Homo sapiens: one gene and its partner. The protein of the gene in region 1 purifies or fractionates together with the protein of each later gene. This does not show direct contact. Each region holds a gene or a part of one and is shown on either strand. Other genes may lie near its edges.

Region 1 (7,424 bases):
AATACACACAAAAAAAATAGCCAGGCGTGGTGGCACACGCCTGTAATCCCACCTACTTGGGAAGCTAAGGCACGAGAATCGCTTGAACCTGGGAGGCGGAGGTTGCAGTGAGCCGAGATTGCACCACTGCACTCTTGCCTGCACAACAGAGTGAGACTTGATCTCAAAGAAAAAACAAAAAAAAAATAATAACCTATTCTGTTTAATGTACAGATGGTCCTTGACTTAATGATGGTTCTACCTATAATTTTTCAACTTTTATGATAGTATGAAAGTAATACTCATTCAGTAGAAACTGTATACTTCAGTTTTCAGTAAATTACATGAGATACTAAGCACTTTATTATAAACAGGCTTTGTGTTAGATGATTCTGCCCAACTGTAGGCTAACGCAAGTGTCCTAAGCGTGTTTAAGGTAGGCTAGGCTAACCTAAGCAATTGTGTTTAGTAGGTTAGATGAATTACATGCATTTTCATCTTAATAGTATTTATCAGGATGTAACTCCATTGTAAGATGAGGACAATTGTATATATATTTTAGTGATATTATTTTATTATTATTATTATTATTATTATTTTTGAGACAGGGTCTCACTTTGTCACCCAGGCTGGAGTGCGGTGGCATGATCTCAGCTCATTGCAGCCTCGACCTCCCAGGTTCAAGCAATCTTCCTGCCTCAGCCCCCACCAAGTAGCTGGGGTTATAGGTGTGCACTACCACACTGGGCTAATTTTTGTATTTTTTGTAGAGACGGGGTTTCGCCATGTTGCCCAGGCTGGTCTCGAACTCCTGGACTCAAGCAACCTGCCTGCCCCAGCCTCTCAAACTGCCGGGATTACAGGTGTGAGCCACTGTGCCTGGCCATAGCGATACTATTTTAATTTGACAAATCCTTTTTGTTGTTCGAAGTGTTTTTACCTAAGCTCTTAAATGTTATAATTCCATTATTATTGTTTTTTTATCACTCTCTGCTTCTTGAAACCCCTTCCAGAGGTTGTGAGATAATGACTATGAAAAGAGGCTTATGAACTGCAAAGTGCACAGAAACACAAGTATTCCTTCTGAATAGTTCCTTTTTTATCTCTGTATAGTTCTAAGACACTACATTTAGTCATGTAAGGTTTAAATTCCCAGCAAAGAATGCTGATTTATACTACACATAACACAAAGTTCTATTTCCAAATAAACAATGAACACCTTTATACATTTCAAAATACTTTCATTTCTATTATTCTATTTGATGAAATGGTTATGTTTTGACTGAAAGTCTAGTGAAAAATATTAAAAATCCAGACTTGAATCACTCTGACAGCTATACCACCGATCAAAAAAGTTTTTACTTCATGAACACTGTCATTAGTTTCACATGAATCAATAATTACCACATCATTCCCAGGGTTCGGCCACTATTTTTAAACTTTTAATTTTGAAATAACTATAGATTCACAGGAAGTTGGAAAAAACAAAAAAAAGTTCTGTATATTAAGGAGGTCTTCACTTCGTCCCTCCCCACAGTTAACATCTTACCCAATTATAGCATGATATGAAGACCGGGAAATTGATATTGATGGTCCACATAACTTTTTCAGATTTCATTTCTTTTATATGTACTCGTTTGGCAGAAGGGGGCTATATAGTTCTATGTAATTTTATTATATGTGTAGATTTGTGTAACCACCACGACATTCAGAACACAGAATTGTTCTATCACCACAGGAACCCTCATACTACCCCTTTATAGCTCCACCAACCCTTTCCTCCCACTTCTAACCTCTGGCAAACTCTGATCTCCACCGCCACAATTTTGTTATTTCGAGCATATGAATGGATTTGTACAGTACAGAGCCTTTTGAGATTGGCTTTTTTCACTCAGCTACTTCCCTTGATATCCATCCAAGCTGATGTACATATAGTTAGCTAGTTCATTTTTATTGCTGCATCACTTTCCATATTATGAACATATCAAAGTTTATTCACCTGCAAAAGGACCCATTTTTAGATGGCAGTTTCCTTCTATTTTATTACATAATGAGTCAGCCAAAGATTACAATTTCTCCAGATATGTTGCTTCAGATTTTAACAATAATTTATCCCCAAGGAAAAGGTTTTGCTACAGGAATACTGATCTCCCAATGATACCTCCTGCTCACGGAGATGCAGCACACATACTCTAAGACTCAACCCTGTCAAACATGTTTTCCAAGTGAAGATCTCCTTACCTACAGCTGTCTCTACTGGCTCCTTCAGAAAAAGACATCCACCAGGCCGAAGGATCCGGGCGATTTCAGCCAAAATCTCAGCACTGTGCAGAGTGGTGCTTCCTGGGACTAAACCTGACAAAATAATGTCAAAGCTGGATTCTTTGTGGGCAGCTGAAAAGAAGAGGACTCTAATTAGCAATCTCCTGAGCCTGGGATAATCTCCTGGTCCCTTCCAACCCCCAACAAAAGCTACAGACCTCACCCTGAGAGAATGGACACCACTCGATATCCATCCAAGAAGCTGGATGAATAGTAAGTGTTTTAAAAAAACATGGAATAGCTACCAAGAAAGAACATACTTATGGAAATCATCAACTACACTCCTAAGCTCTGCTGCAGGAAGTGAGGGACCCCAAACGGAGGGACCGGCTGAAGCCATGGCAAAAGTACACAAATTGTGAAGATTTCATGAACATTTATTAGTTCCCCAAATTAATACTTTTATAATTTCTTACGCCTGTCTTTACTGCAATCTCTGAATATAAATTGTGAAGATTTCATGGACATTTATCACTTCCTCAGTCAATACTCTTGTGATTTCCTATGCCTGTCTTTACTTTAATCTCTTAATCCCGTCATCTTCATAAGCTGAGGATGTATGTTGCCTCAGAACCCTGTGATGATTGCGTTAACTGCACAAATTGTTCATAAAGCATGTGCATTTAAACAATACGACATCTGCGCACCTTGAAAAAAGAACAGGATAACAGCGATGTTCAGGGAACAAGGGAGATAACCATCAGGTCTGACTGCCTGAGAGCCAGGCGGAACAGAGCCATATTTCTCTTCTTACAAAAGTGAATAGGAGAAATATCACTGAATTCTTTTTCTCAGCAAGGAACAGCCCTGAGAAAGAGAATGCGTTCCTAGGGGGAGGTCTCTAAAATGGCCACTCTGGGATGTCTGTCTTATATGGTTGCAGATAAGGGATGAAATAAGCCCTGGTCTCCCGTAGCACTCCCAGGCCTGTTAGGACGAGGAAATTCCCACCCAGTAAATTTTAGTCAGACCAGCTGTCTGCTTTCAAACCCTGTCTCCTGATAAGATGTTATCTATGACAATGCGTGCCCGAAACTTTATTAGCAATTTTAATTTCGCCCCAGTCCTGTGATCTCGCTCTGCCCCCGTTTGCCTTATTTTATTGCCTTGTGAAGCATGTGATCTCTGTGACCCACACCCTATTCGTACACTCCCTCCCCTTTGAAAATCACTAATAAAAACTTGCTGGTTTTGCGGCTTGAGGGGCATCACGGAACCCGCCGACATGTGATGTCTCCCCCGGACACCCAGCTTTAAAATTTCTCTCTTTTGTACTCTTTCCCTTTATTTCTCAGACCAGCCGACACTTAGGGAAAATAGAAAAGAACCTACGTTGAATTATTGGGGGTGGTTCCTCCGATATATCTCAACTGAAAAACAACAGGGTGACCAGCCACCACTATCACATGCCACCCTAAATGAAAACTCAGATATCAAGGAACCACAGAAATGCAACACTCCCATGGAAACCCCTCCAGCCTCATAAAGACAACGTGGGTGGGTACTTACATTGCAACAGCTGCTTGATGTTTTCCACAGACACGCGGCCCTCATTGCCGGTTAACGCTTGAAGCTTATCCACCAGACCTTTCAGAGCCTCCACTGGGGATGACTTATCCCAGACCACTGCCACAAACTGGCCAGCAGAGATCCCAAAATCTGCCATTCTTGCAGTGCAGTACTGACAGACCTAAAAACTGCTGGCCAAAAGGGAATCAAGACTGGGCAGAGACAAAGTGCAATTTAATCTGTGAGATATCATAAAATATGATTAGAATCCCAACCTAACTTGTAACCGCCCACTAGGGAATGCTGACAACATTAGAAACTCTACTGTATATGCTAAAGAGTCTGAATACATGAACCCCATTATCTCAAGTCTTCATAAGCCCAACATTCCCAAAGAAGGCAGATAGCTTCCTTGGTGAGAATCCTGACTTGGAAGAGTCAAGAAAGGGGATTAGAGGCAAGTAAGAAGGTTGGAGGCAGAAAGATGATTTCCTCTTTGACCTAAGATAATTCAGCATGAACGGAATGGAAAACACACAGGACATCAATTAGGCAAAGTGTGACTTGGCAAGGAAGGCAAATAAATTGACAGAAATAACCCAACCACAGATTCAATGTTTTTAAAAAGAAACAACACATTTAAATTTGCAAACTGAATACTGGTTATTTTCCCTTTCATCAAAATATGAAAATTTAATTCCACTGAATCTGCAGTGATCAAGAATACTTACTATGTCTGTACCATTTAATATTAGCTACATTGTTCAAAGCATCTTCTAAACATTATCTCAACTGAATCTCAGAACAGCCTTAAACTAGATATTATTACCATTTTACAGTCTGGAAACTGAGGCAATTTACGTTGCCCAAGTCACACAGCTAGTGAGTGCTACATGGATAAAGTGAGAGCTGGGATTTGAACCCAAATTCATCTGACTGTAAATCCCATGCTTTTAACCTATGGAAATTTCCCTCCAGGGATCAACTTCCTCTTCCACTTGATACTTAGGTGAGTATATAATATGCTCACAAAGAAATTAGGTCAAGAGATAGTACTCTACTCAGTTTCTCCTTTCTTTCTTAAACATTAATGACACCAGTTTCCAATTTAAAATAGCTCAAATAAATGAAACAAACAATTTGTGGTAGAGGAGTCAAAATGGATTAGTTTTATGTTGAACACTTCAGACTTCTGCAGAGGTGGCCAACTCAGTGGCAATCATGCCACCACAGATACAGACTGAATTCAAGCGAAGTCACTACACTCTTGTTTCTTTTAAAATGTTGACTTCGGCTGGGCACAGTGGCTCACACCTGTAATTTCAGCACTTTAGGAAGCCGAGCCAGGCGAATTGCCTGAGCCCAGGAGTTTGAGACCAGCCTGGCCAACATGGTGAAACCCCATCTCTACTAAAAATACAAAAATTAGCTGGGTGTGGTGGTGCATGCCTGTAATCCCAGCTACTCACGAGGCTGAGGAAGGAGAATCGCTTGAACCTGGGAGATGGAGGTTGCAGTGAGCCAAGATCGTGCCGCTGCACTCCAGCCTGGTGACAGAGCGAGACTCCGTCTCAAAATAAATAAATAAATAAAAAATAAAAAATTATAGCTGGGCGTGGTGGCTCATGCCTATTATCCCAGCACCTTGGGAAGGCGAGGCAGGTGGATCCCTTGAGTCCAGGAGTTCAAGACCAGCCTGGGCGACGTGGTGAAACCCCATCTCTACTAAAAATACAAAAATTAGCTGGGCGTGGTGACAGAATCTATGGTAGTCTTATGTAGTAATCTTATGTAGTCCCAGCTACTGGGGTGGAGGAGAGGGCCTGAGGTGGTAGGACTGCTTGAGCCCAGGAGGTTGAGGCTGCAGTGAGCCAAGATTGTGCCACTACATTCCAGACCCTGTCTCAAAAAAACCAAAGTTCACTTCAAGTAACTCTCCTCTTTGCCTACAAAACATACTCAGGATGTTAAATATTTAACACTCAAGCATTAAATACTATAGCACTTTGATTTGTCACTCTTTTCCTAAAGGAGTTACTAAAGGTTTTATTTGCTAGACTGATGTCAATTGGCCTTCTGGATCCACGGCCTCCATAATCTGGCTCTACCTGTATCTCCCACCATTCCAAAGTGATCCCTCCTTATTCTATGAAAACCCTTTGCATTTTCCCCTCATCATGCCTTTTATCTAGCTCCTTCCATATGATCCAACTGCAAGCGCCCCTAAAAGGATGCTAAGTGTTATCAGACAAGTAGGATTCTTTAGTCATTTAACTCTGTTTTCCTTAATGACAGAGGGCAAGTAAAAATGGAAAAAAAAAAAGAAAAAAAAATAATTAAAAAGACAATAATTCTGGTTTTGTTTTTTTTTTTTTTTTGCGGGGGTGGTGGGGAGGACAGAGTTTCACTCTTGTTGTCCAGGCTGGAGTGTAATCTTGGCTCACCACAACCTCTGCCTCCCGGGTTCAAGCGATTCTCACGCCTCAGTTTCCTGAGTAGCTGGGATTACAGGCGTGCACCACCATGCCCGTCTACTTTTGTATTTTTTTAGTAGACGGGGTTTCTCCATGTTGGTCAGGCTGGTCTTGAACTCCCAGCCTCAGGTGATCCACCCGCCTCAGCCTCCCAAAGTGATGAGATTACAGGTGTGAGCCACGGCATCCAGCTAATTCTGTGGTGTTTTTGTTTGTTTGTTCTGTTTTTTGAGACAGAGTCTCACTCCGTCACCCAGGCTGGAATGCAGTGGCACAATCTCAACTCAGTGCAACCTCCGCCTTCAGCGTTCAAGCAATTCTCATGCCTCAGCCTCCCAAGTAGCTGGAATTACAGGTGGACGCCACCACACCTGGCTAATTTCTGTATTTTTAGTAGCAACAGAGTTGTTGGCCAGGCTATTCTCAAACTCCTGACCTCAAGTGATCTGCCCACCTCGGCCTCCCAAAGTGCTGGGATTACAGACATGAGCCACCGTGCCTGGCCAATTTTGGTTTTTAAATCCCTAAACAGCACACAATCAAGAACTGAAACTTTTAACTGGCACATGATGTCGAGGAAGAACCCTTGCAAACTTCAAGGTGTGCAATATGGGATCAATCTCCCATTTAAGAACCAGCCAGGCAAGATGGGAGTATGGATTGCTGGGCATTAAGTTATAAGAAAAAAAAAATGACCTGTTTCTAGAATGATGTTGGAATAGGTTCTTCCTTGGGACAATAGAAAGGGATGAAAAAGACCCCACCTACTAGACTACCACAACTTTGCACTGTACTTACAGAAAAACCCTCATAAAGGAAACGAAGGGCAAAAGCTTACTTATTAGCTAGAGAAAACAAGCCAAATGTCTAGACCTTTTCAGCAACATTTACGGAGGCTTTTATAGGGCACAGGTTTTGAGTGCAGATGACCTAGGGTTCTATTTACCACTGGATCTTATGGGCACATGACCATGGATAAGTTACTAGACTCTTTGAATTTGTTTTCTCATCAGTAAAGTAGGGATAAAAACCTCATATTTTGCGAGGCTGCTGTAAGAAGCAAATGAGAAGATAAAAATAAGCAAGGCACTCGGCAGGCTCTGGCACACAGAGCTCTGTAAAGTAATGTTCTAGAACTCT
Region 2 (9,973 bases), on another chromosome or scaffold:
GGGCCCTCACAAGGATCAGACGATGCTGGCACCCTGATCTCTCAATTCCAGCCTCCAGAACGGTGAGAAATCAATGTCCATTGTTTATAAGCCACTCTGTATGTGGTGCTTTCTTATAGAAACCCCAACTATGACAAACTCTTAAGAACCCGTTATTTCAATAAGAACAAGAGTTTGTAAAGAGCTTATTTTGGTAGATACCTAGTTAGTCCTTCTCAAGAAGATTCATTTTTTTTTTTTGCCCTTGATCCAAAGAGTTTGGGGAAATTCAACCATCAAAACTACTAAGCTTGGCCAGACACAGTGGTTCGTGTCTCTAATCCCAGCACTTTGGGAGGCTAAGGCGGGTGGATCACCTGAGGTCAGAAGTTCAAGACCAGCCTGGCTAACACGGAGAAATCCTGTCTTCATGAAAATACAAAAATTAGCTGGGTGCAGTGCCATGTATCTGTAATCCCAGCTATTTGGGAGGCCGAGGCAGGAGAATCGCTTGAACCCAGGAGGCAGAGGCTGCAGTGAGCTGAGAGTGCACCACTGCACTCCAGCCTGGGTGACAGAGTAAGACTCTGTCTCAAAAAAAAAAAAAAAAAAAGAAAAAAAGAAAAAACTACTAAGCTTTCCAAGCACATGTTATCACATGGGGTGTCTGTAATAAAGCAAGCAAATATAAAACTCATATGAGCTCAGAAACTCCAACACAAAACAACAACAAAAGGAATTAAAGAACAAAGCCTAAAAACATGTAACCTGGCAATCTGACATTCCCTATACATGTCGACTGGTTAAGTATACTTATGTTCTTAACCATATAGTTTGGTGGTTATAATTTACTGCAGATGTCAACTAACATTTATGTACTGAAAGGTAAAATTACAAAAACGTGCCTGAGAATAACAACATTGGGATAGTGGTTACTTCTCTGGATGGAAAGAGAATTGGTGTGGCATTAACTGCAACGGTAAATTTTTTTATTAAAAAAATATATAAAGTACACAAAAAGTATTAAACTCTCTAAGGGAGTTCTCCCCTCTCCTTAAGAGCCTCTGGGACTCTGGAGCTTCTTGTTTCATTTAGCCCTGTTTTCCAGTGACTTTCCATTTTCTGATCCCTAACCCTCACAATGGCACTTAGATAAGGACGAGCAGGCATCCAGTGGGGTTTATAAAGCAGTACAGCATAACTGTTAAGAGCATGAGTCTGGTGTCAGACAGCCAGGTTTATATCCCAGCCTCACCACTCACTGGCTGTGAGACTTAAGCAAATTACTTAACTGAGACAGCAAGAACAACATCTGGTTTAATCTGAAATCAGAATCAGAGCAAACTAAGAGAAGGAGCTGGGTATGAAACAAAAAGAAAAGTAATAATCTTTTCTCATACAAAAGGAAAAACATTTTATTGGTTTGATCTGAAAATAAAAAGAAGTCCCAGAAAATCTAAAAAGTGTAAAGAAATTAATGATCACCCATAATCCTAAAAATAATTACTATTATCATTTTGACATATGTCAAGCAAGCTTGCTAAGAAAATCCTAACAGATTACAGTAATTCTTTCTAATTCCACAAGGGAAAAAGAATATATTAAAAACAACATCATTAATAGCCATTTATAAACATATGCATATTATTATGCATTTATGCATGCATGTGTTAGAACACGTAGAAAAATCATCTAGAGAAGGCAGACATACCCAAGACCATGGAGCTAAGCATGATCTTTTTTCGTCTGTTTGTTTGAGACAGGGCCTCACTCTGTCACCCAGGCTTGAGTTCAGTGGTGCAATCATGGCTCACTACAGCCTCAACCTCCCGGGCTCATGTGATCTTCCCACCTCAGCCTCCCAAGTAGCTGAAACTACAGGGGCGTGCTATCACACCTGGCTAATTTTTGTATTTTTTGTAGAGACAGGGTCTTGCTATGTTGCCCAGGCTGGTCTCAAATTTCTGAGCTCAAGCAATCTTCCCACCTCGGCCTCCCAAAGTGCTAGGATTACAAGCATGAGCCACCACACCCAGCCAGTTTGGACATTTTTTAAAAGCTGTTTTTTACAAGCTGTAAAAAACAACAAAGTTATGTGACAGAGACTCATAAAGCTAAAAATATTTACCATCTGGTCCTTTATAGAAAATGTTTGCTCAATACAGAGAAGAGACATAAAACACCTGGGGAGAGGCATATAACTGGAAGTTTAATTTTCTACATAATAGTCTTCAGAATTATTTTTTCCTTTTTGTTTTAAAAAAAGTAGTCATTACTTTTTAAAATATGACTAATTTTGATTTTTAATTTTTAAAAATCCATAAAAAGAAAGCCATTCTGAAAAGTAAAAACTGAACCAAGGGTATACTGGAACCAGTGACCCCTGGACTAAAGTCTCTTTCTATGTAGGCGAGGAAGCCTCTCTAACACCCAATAAGAGAAATGCCAAAAGACTCTCAGCCTTGTTTTAGATGCCACATTTCCTCCTGCCACCAATATAGACAGCATCTCCTATATGCAAATGCCTTTCGTCCCTCCGCTTCAATACTGATGTTCATGTTTGGTGGTGGAGGCTGGAGGGGTGACAGGGCACAGGGGCAGGAGGGTACCTGGAGATCGTCTGTGAATTTTGAGTTAAATACATAACATTTGAGGAAGGTAGTTCTTAAGCCAGAGATCAGAATCAACTAGTATATTCCCCAAAGCTACTACATAGCTCATTGAGCTAAGAGCACTATGACTTTCTTTATTCAACCTCTCCACCATTTCCAATGTTTGCTGGGACTCTTGCCAGGAAGGAGAGGCCAATGTGTCTTAGATCCACTCCAGGATATTGCCAGTAATGCTGCCAATACACTGTACAGCAGTGTACACATCCGCACTGTCCCATCATACACTAACTCTGTCTCTCAGCTATCTAAGACTACAACGAGCTCCTTAGGACACTTATAAAAAGGCAGGAGGCAACTGCTTTTTCTGTTTTGCTCAGGAAAAGATCTCTTTTCTTTTCCCTTTGTTCCTCTGTGACATAAAGTGCACAAAAATTCATTTGGTACCTGTGCTTCTAAGTTAACAATGTGAAAATCACATGGTAAACAGCACTCCACTTACGTAGGATGTTTTGGATTCTGCATCCCAACAGTCACAGGCATAATGGGCCATCTCATTCTCCATGTGCTGCCGGAAGCGGAGTTTATCTGGAGATATTCCAACCTTCGTGAGGTAGAGGTAGATGCGGCCAATGAAATAGCCTAATACTGTGTTATTAATCACACCCTAAACCAACCAATAAGCAAGCATGGAGGAAGAAAAGAAAACACACATTAATACTCTTCAAAGCCAAGATATCGGTTTCCATTGACTCACTCTACTGAAAAATATTTGACACCCAACACAAACTATTTTATCTTGCTTTCAAAACAATTTCAAATACTCAGAATGAGATCTTGGTTATTTTTTAATGGGTTAATGTCAAGATGATGATAATGGAGTTATTCAAAATCTGTCCAACATACTTACTGGGTCAGCAAAAATTCAGCCCAGTACCTCATACCTCTAAATCTACAGTACTAAAAACAATATTCATAATTGACACTAAAGAATGGCAAAGACATTCCCCTCTGAATTAACCAAAGTAATGACACGTTGAGGGGATTTTAATGTATCCTTACCCACTGAAATTTGTGAACCCCGTAGAGTACACGTAATCATTTTAGTGTTTGCAAGGACCTTAGAAAACATCTAGCCCCATCTCCATACACTGCAGAGGTCTTCTCTGCAAAGTGGCTGACAAGCTATCGTCCAACCTTGCCAGGAGTATTTTCAGGGCCAGGAAGCTCACTGCTCCCTGAGGCAACTCATTCCACTAGTGGACAGCAGCTACTGTTGGCAAGTTTTCACGCACTCACTTCTCCAGGCAAATATTTACAAAGTGCTTATATGCAAGGCCTTATTCCACTGCTATGGGTAATACAGAAGAGTCTGAAACCCAGATGGCTTGCTTTCTGTGGGTCCAATGCTGTCTCCCCCAAAGTAGTACATACTGTTGAGTCAGATTGGTGAGGCACAATGCAAACCAAGATCTATTTTCCAAGTGCTCTGCTAAACATTTTTTTTCATGCTAGCCCCAAGGCCCACAAATTGAGATGTTCAGGTGATTTTTCTCTTACTATAATAATACTGTATAACAAATTCTGTACAAAACCAAGTACTGTAAAAAAGCAAATGACTGCCAAAATAAAATATCTTGTCACCCAGAACACATAGAATTTGCTAATTGCTGCAAACCCTGAACAGGCACAATCTAAGTTAAGTTACCTCCAGAATCCTACCTGTTCAACAGCATCTCCCAGGCGCATTTTCCGAGCGGACTGTCCGCTGACCTGGGCTTTTGCTGAATACAAATAAAGGTGAAGGTCTGCCACATTCTGGAACTTGGGGTGGTCTTTCTCACTGGGATCTACAAAGTGCTCAATTTCTGCCATTGTGAATTCTCTGAAAGCAAAAACGTAAGCGATAAACCTGCATATTTAACTACAAAAAACAAACAAACAAAAAACAAGGCCTCTATTTTCAACTGCATTCTAGTGATAAAGGCTCCATACTATAGTGGTCTTTTTCACTAAACAGAAAGTTGGTTTCCTAAGGGAATGGCCAAAAAAATTTTGAATTAAATTTGTCTGGGTAGTTGTTATTTTTATTTTTTTGATGTATTATATTTGTACAAATTTATGGGGTACATGTGAAGGTTATTTTTAAACACATTAATGAAAATTTTATTACTCACTATTTAAAATAAACATGATCTAACTTCTCTGAAGTATTAATTCCTTCCCTCCAGCTACATCCAAAAAGATTATTACTTTTAACTGAAAATAACTTGTTAAAGGCAGATTAATATAGTTTTTTAAATTAGGAAAACATACGCAAAAATCACATGAAAAATAAGAAATAAGATATTGAATAGTGACATGCAGATAAAATGGTTTTCCTTAAAGCATTAGCAAGTCTTTATAAGTATACACTAAATGAAGTTTCTTCATCCCATTTCAAAGAATGGGAAATTAAAAGCGAAATGAAATGGTTCTTTAGCTTTCATAGCAGTTTGATTTCTTCTTTTTTACTGCTACAAAAAAGTAAATGACTGATAATGGCATCATACAGTTGGTTTCTTTGGAGCAAGAGCTTCTTAAATAAAGTGTTATTCAAGGCAAAGGATATAAGGCATGAATTGAACAAGCTAACATCAAGCTAATTACCTAACGATGAAGTGCACATAGTAATGGTTTCCCAAAGAGATTTCTCTGAATGCAATTTAGTAGCTATTTGCGGGAGAAGTGTTTCAAGTTAATTTTATGAGTCAAAATCAATCTCTCTTCTTTCAAGAAAAATCACATTTTCTGGTGTGCTTCCATGATTATCTCAGATGTTTTACGAGTAATGTAAAATTGCTTAAATGGATCCTAAAAATACATGAAATACACTGCAAAAGAGGTTTAATTTTTTTTTTTTTTTTTTTGAGACGGAGTCTCGCTCGCCCAGGCTGGAGTGCAGTGGCGCGATCTCGGCTCACTGCAAGCTCCGCCTCCCGGGTTCACGCCATTCTCCTGCCTCAGCCTCCCGAGTAGCTGGGACTACAGGCGCCCGCCACCACGCCCGGCTAATTTTTTGTATTTTTAGTAGAGGCAGGGTTTCACTGTGTTAGCCAGGATGGCCTCAATCTCCTGAACCTCATGATCCGCCCGCCTCTGCCTCCCAAAGTGCTGGGATTACAGGCGTGAGCCACTGCGCCCGGCCAAGAGGTTTAATTTTTAAATTTTATTTTTTAATAGTGTCTCTTATTTGGTCCTGCTGCACCTATGTTTTAGTTGTCTTTCAACAACTAGGAAACATCTTCTGTGCCCATATAAATGTGAGAGAAACAAACATGGTGTTTGTCCTCACATAGCTTATAATTGGGCTGACAGCAACTGAACATCTACAATGTGGGACAGGATAAATTACGGGCCCTGCCTAGAATCTCCAAAATGCTGCTGCCAAAGTCTTTCCATCTGTTCTGTCACAAATCTCAGCACTGTGTCTATAGTTAATGATTCACTGTATACCTGAAATCCGCTCAAAGAGTAGATGTTAAGTAGATCTCACCACTAAAAAAAAAAAAAGTAACTATGTGAGGTGATAATTATGTTAATTAGCTTGACTGTGGTAATCATTTCACAATGTATAAGCATATCAAAGCACCACACTGTGTGACTTGAAATCATACAAATCATACAAAATTTACTCATCAATAATCTCAGCTCATAGATAGGAGGCAGGAATCATCAGAATTCTGAGTAACTGTATCTCAGTTCAGCAACTGTACCTGAAACTGTAGAGAACTAAAATACACACAGGCTAGGAAGACAGATAAGTCAATCAAAATAAAATAAAATTTTAGAAAAATCTTCATATGAACAATCTAATACCTCTAAACTAACAAAAGGACAAAAGGAAATACAGCTATGCAAAGATTAATCACCAGAGAACTCTGCCATCAAGAAGAATCAGAACACTAAATAAACCAATCCTAGTCCTACCATGGAACAAAAGCCAGGAGGATGCTGACTCATGAAAAAACTAGTGGACTTCTGGTCAGGAACTTGCAAGGGACATAACAAAACTAGCCAGAATTCAGACATGACACTTTGAAGTGAAAATGACCAAAGAATCCACTGTTGAGAAGCCCCAGAGCCTTTCTACCAGTTAACCCCTGGGATCACTCCCAAGTTCCAAGCTGGTTTCCCTACTCACCACTTTTTTACTGCACAGGCCCCAGACACTGCCTTACTTCTCAGTCCTTCTCAATAATCTTCCCATAGCTACTCTGTGTAAACCCTCTTCGTAACACTGGCTTCAGACAAGGTCAGCCTTACGCAGCTTCCTCAGTTTGGGAAGGCATACTTGCTAGATATTGAAACGGTGAAAAACAAAAAAACAAAAACACTCAGACACTGGGAAATAAAACAAAGACTCAAATCTGACAAATTTGTCATTGCCATCATACCTGGCTAAAGTTTCTGATGACCTCCTCTTTTTACATGAAAGCTCAGAGGGGTCATTCCCCCAACTTTCTCTAAGTTGGGCACATTCTTTCCTCTGTAAGTCCCTCCTTCCTAAACCGTAAACCTGTAGGGCCTAGAGATACAGTTTGCGCAGAACATAGGCATCTTCTCCCAGATGGCATCATGGGAACTAACAAGATGAGGCAGGTGCTGTGGATGCTTTGATCCAGAGTCAGTGACTGGGCTATGTTATGACCCAAGTCTGTAATTACAGTGAGTAAGAAGAGAAGACAGGAAATGGGTGGGCGCTGGGGCTGGGAAAACACTTTGGGGCCTTAGAAAGTTATGTTTAGCTACACCTCGTATTTTATATGGAATGTATTACTCTAAGAGATGATACCAGGAATAACGTATAGAAATCACAAAAAACTTAAGTCATAAACAGCTGAGTCATAATAAATTTCTAAAGAAATATAGAACTCACCAGCCCCAATATGCCTTCCCACACATCCCTGGATAGATCAGACAAAAGTAGGCTATTTGAATAGAGGCCAAGTGAGTGATGAGGGTAAGCTTGCTTGCTGGCCTTTCTGTCATATAGGCCCCCCAAATACCTGGACGGAGGTTGTTTCCAGAACTCCAGTTGGTTACTGATACATCCTCACCCCAACTTCAGCAATGTTGTCTGCCCTAGATATCTAGAACAATCCTCCTGCCACAACTTTCACCCTACCCCCACCCGACCCCACCCTTTTATACACATCACCATTGCCAGTATTGCCTTGGTTTAGACAATCAAGATATTACCATCCTCAAAATATACGATGAACAAGGAAAAAGGTAATTTTGGAGCAGGTGAGACTCTTAAGACAGTCTCCACCCTCCTTCCTTTCCCTTCAAGTTCACTTTTGTCACTCAAAACTGCCTGTCATCCTGGAGATTACATTTAGAGATTCCAAATGTAAAACATGATTTTTGGAGAAAACAAAAATAAATTCATAATCAGGATTATGAAGCAGAATTGCTTCAAAACAGCAAGCTTTCATTTTCAATGCAATGCCAAGGTCATTCACTAATTTGTAAGAGTAACCTGAGCAGTACCTGACTCTGATCAGTCCAGATCGAGGGGAGATCTCATTTCTAAAAGAATTTCCAATCTGGGCAGCAGCAAAAGGCAACTTTCCTTGGTTGAACTCCAAAAGTCGTTTGAAATTCAAGAAAATCCCCTGTGCAGTTTCTGGTCTCAAGTACCTATAAATTTAAGTAAGTCAGTCTGTTACAAAGAAAGAAATTATGTTTTCCAACAATCCTGAAATTCTAGATACAAATCCTAAAAGTCCTAAATATACCATTTTCACAACAAAGTTGAACAGGCCCTAAAATGAAGTTTTAGAAATATTTTCCTCGGTAGCAAACATTTTCATAGCACGTATTAGAAAATGTATTAAGTAATTAGTGTGGCAGTACTACTTTGGCAATGCCATTTCATTTAATTACACCAGTGAGTCAAAACCCCACTTCTCAAAAAGCAGAAATAAAAATAAATTTAAAAACACCACCTCAGGCCGCGCGCAGTCGCTCACACCTGTAATCCCAGCACTTTGGGAGGCTGAAGTGGGCGGATCACCTGAGGTTGGGAGTTCGAGATCAGCCTGACCAACATGGAGAAACCCTGTCTCTACTAAAAACACAAAATTAGCCAGGCGTGGTGGCACATGCCTGTAATCCCAGCTACTCAGGAGGCTGAGGCAAGAGAATCGCTTGAACCTGGGAGGCAGAGGTTGCAGTGAGCCGAGATCACGCCATTGCACTCCAGCCTGGGCAACAAGAGCGAAACTCCATCTCAAAACAAACAAACAAAAAACACCACCTCTCCCATAGTGCCCCTTAAACCCCTGATGTCTTCTAAGTCATCATGTACATGGAGGCAGATGACAATCTTAGGTCCTTTGGAAAATAATACCCATGCCTATGTTTAGCCCTGTTAACCCACATATTAAAACTTAACTGAGGGGCTAAAAAGAAATCAGTATAGGCTCACATTTAACATCAGCACTCACTTATCACTATCACCTCACCAAGCCAGGTAATTTTCAATGTTTTTCAAATCATTTTATTATCTGCAGTATTTTATATTTTCAACCAGAGGCTTCCGCATTTCTCTGTATTTTAAAGATATAGTCAAGCAAATACACTACTATAACCACTGCCCTCTCAATTTCCTAGAAGATATTCTGTGCAAAACATCCACTAAGGAAACGCTCCCAATGGCCTACTTCAGAATAAGTATTTTACTAAAATAACTTTAAAACCAAGGGCTAAAAACCCTAAAATTGTACCCTCTTCTTACTTAACAGACCAACTCTTTTGATTTTTATGGCCCTTTCCAGATTTCATCCAAATGTAAGTAAAGTTTATACATATATTTACAGTTAGTATGTATAAAATCATGTATTACCTATTTTATACTTCCCATTTTCTAAATAATGGCACAAATTTCTCACATTTAATAGTGACAGAATATTATCCCAAACTAATCCACTTTACCATAATTTGTTTAACCACTCTCAAATTACTGAATAGGTTATTTCTACTTTCAATTTATATACTTCTTCTAAGTATAATTTCCTTTCCTTCTGAATTATTTCCTTAGATCAATTCCCAGAAATGGAATGTCTGGGTCACAGGTTATGTCTCATTTTATGACTCTGTACATATGGCCAAAATGAAAGGCTTGCCACTGGCCTCTTTCCATGAAATATTCCAAATCAACCTGATGTCTCATTAGAATAATTAACTGCAACACATTTTGTCACAATTAATTTTTCTTATTCTTCAGTCCCTACTCTGGGAAACACGATCTATCTAGCTCATGTAGGAAAAACTTACTCTCTTACCCTATCATAGAAAAATATCTAAAGCTATGAAATGGAACACTGGCTAAGTCTGTT

What was found.
Region 2: the proteins of CIAPIN1 (region 1) and GARS1 fractionate together in Homo sapiens (co-fractionation; 2 studies listed by BioGRID). This does not show direct contact.

What each region holds. Positions count from the first base shown.
Region 1 is NC_000016.10:57,436,962-57,444,385, forward strand, and holds part of CIAPIN1 (anamorsin), read right to left. Parts: intron 4,023-7,424; 5' UTR 3,968-4,022; coding exon 3,811-3,967; intron 2,374-3,810; coding exon 2,221-2,373; intron 1-2,220. UniProt on the Homo sapiens protein: Component of the cytosolic iron-sulfur (Fe-S) protein assembly (CIA) machinery required for the maturation of extramitochondrial Fe-S proteins.
Region 2 is NC_000007.14:30,610,396-30,620,368, reverse strand, and holds part of GARS1 (glycine--tRNA ligase isoform 1 precursor), read right to left. Parts: intron 8,274-9,973; coding exon 8,124-8,273; intron 4,474-8,123; coding exon 4,311-4,473; intron 3,256-4,310; coding exon 3,091-3,255; intron 1-3,090. UniProt on the Homo sapiens protein: Catalyzes the ATP-dependent ligation of glycine to the 3'-end of its cognate tRNA, via the formation of an aminoacyl-adenylate intermediate (Gly-AMP).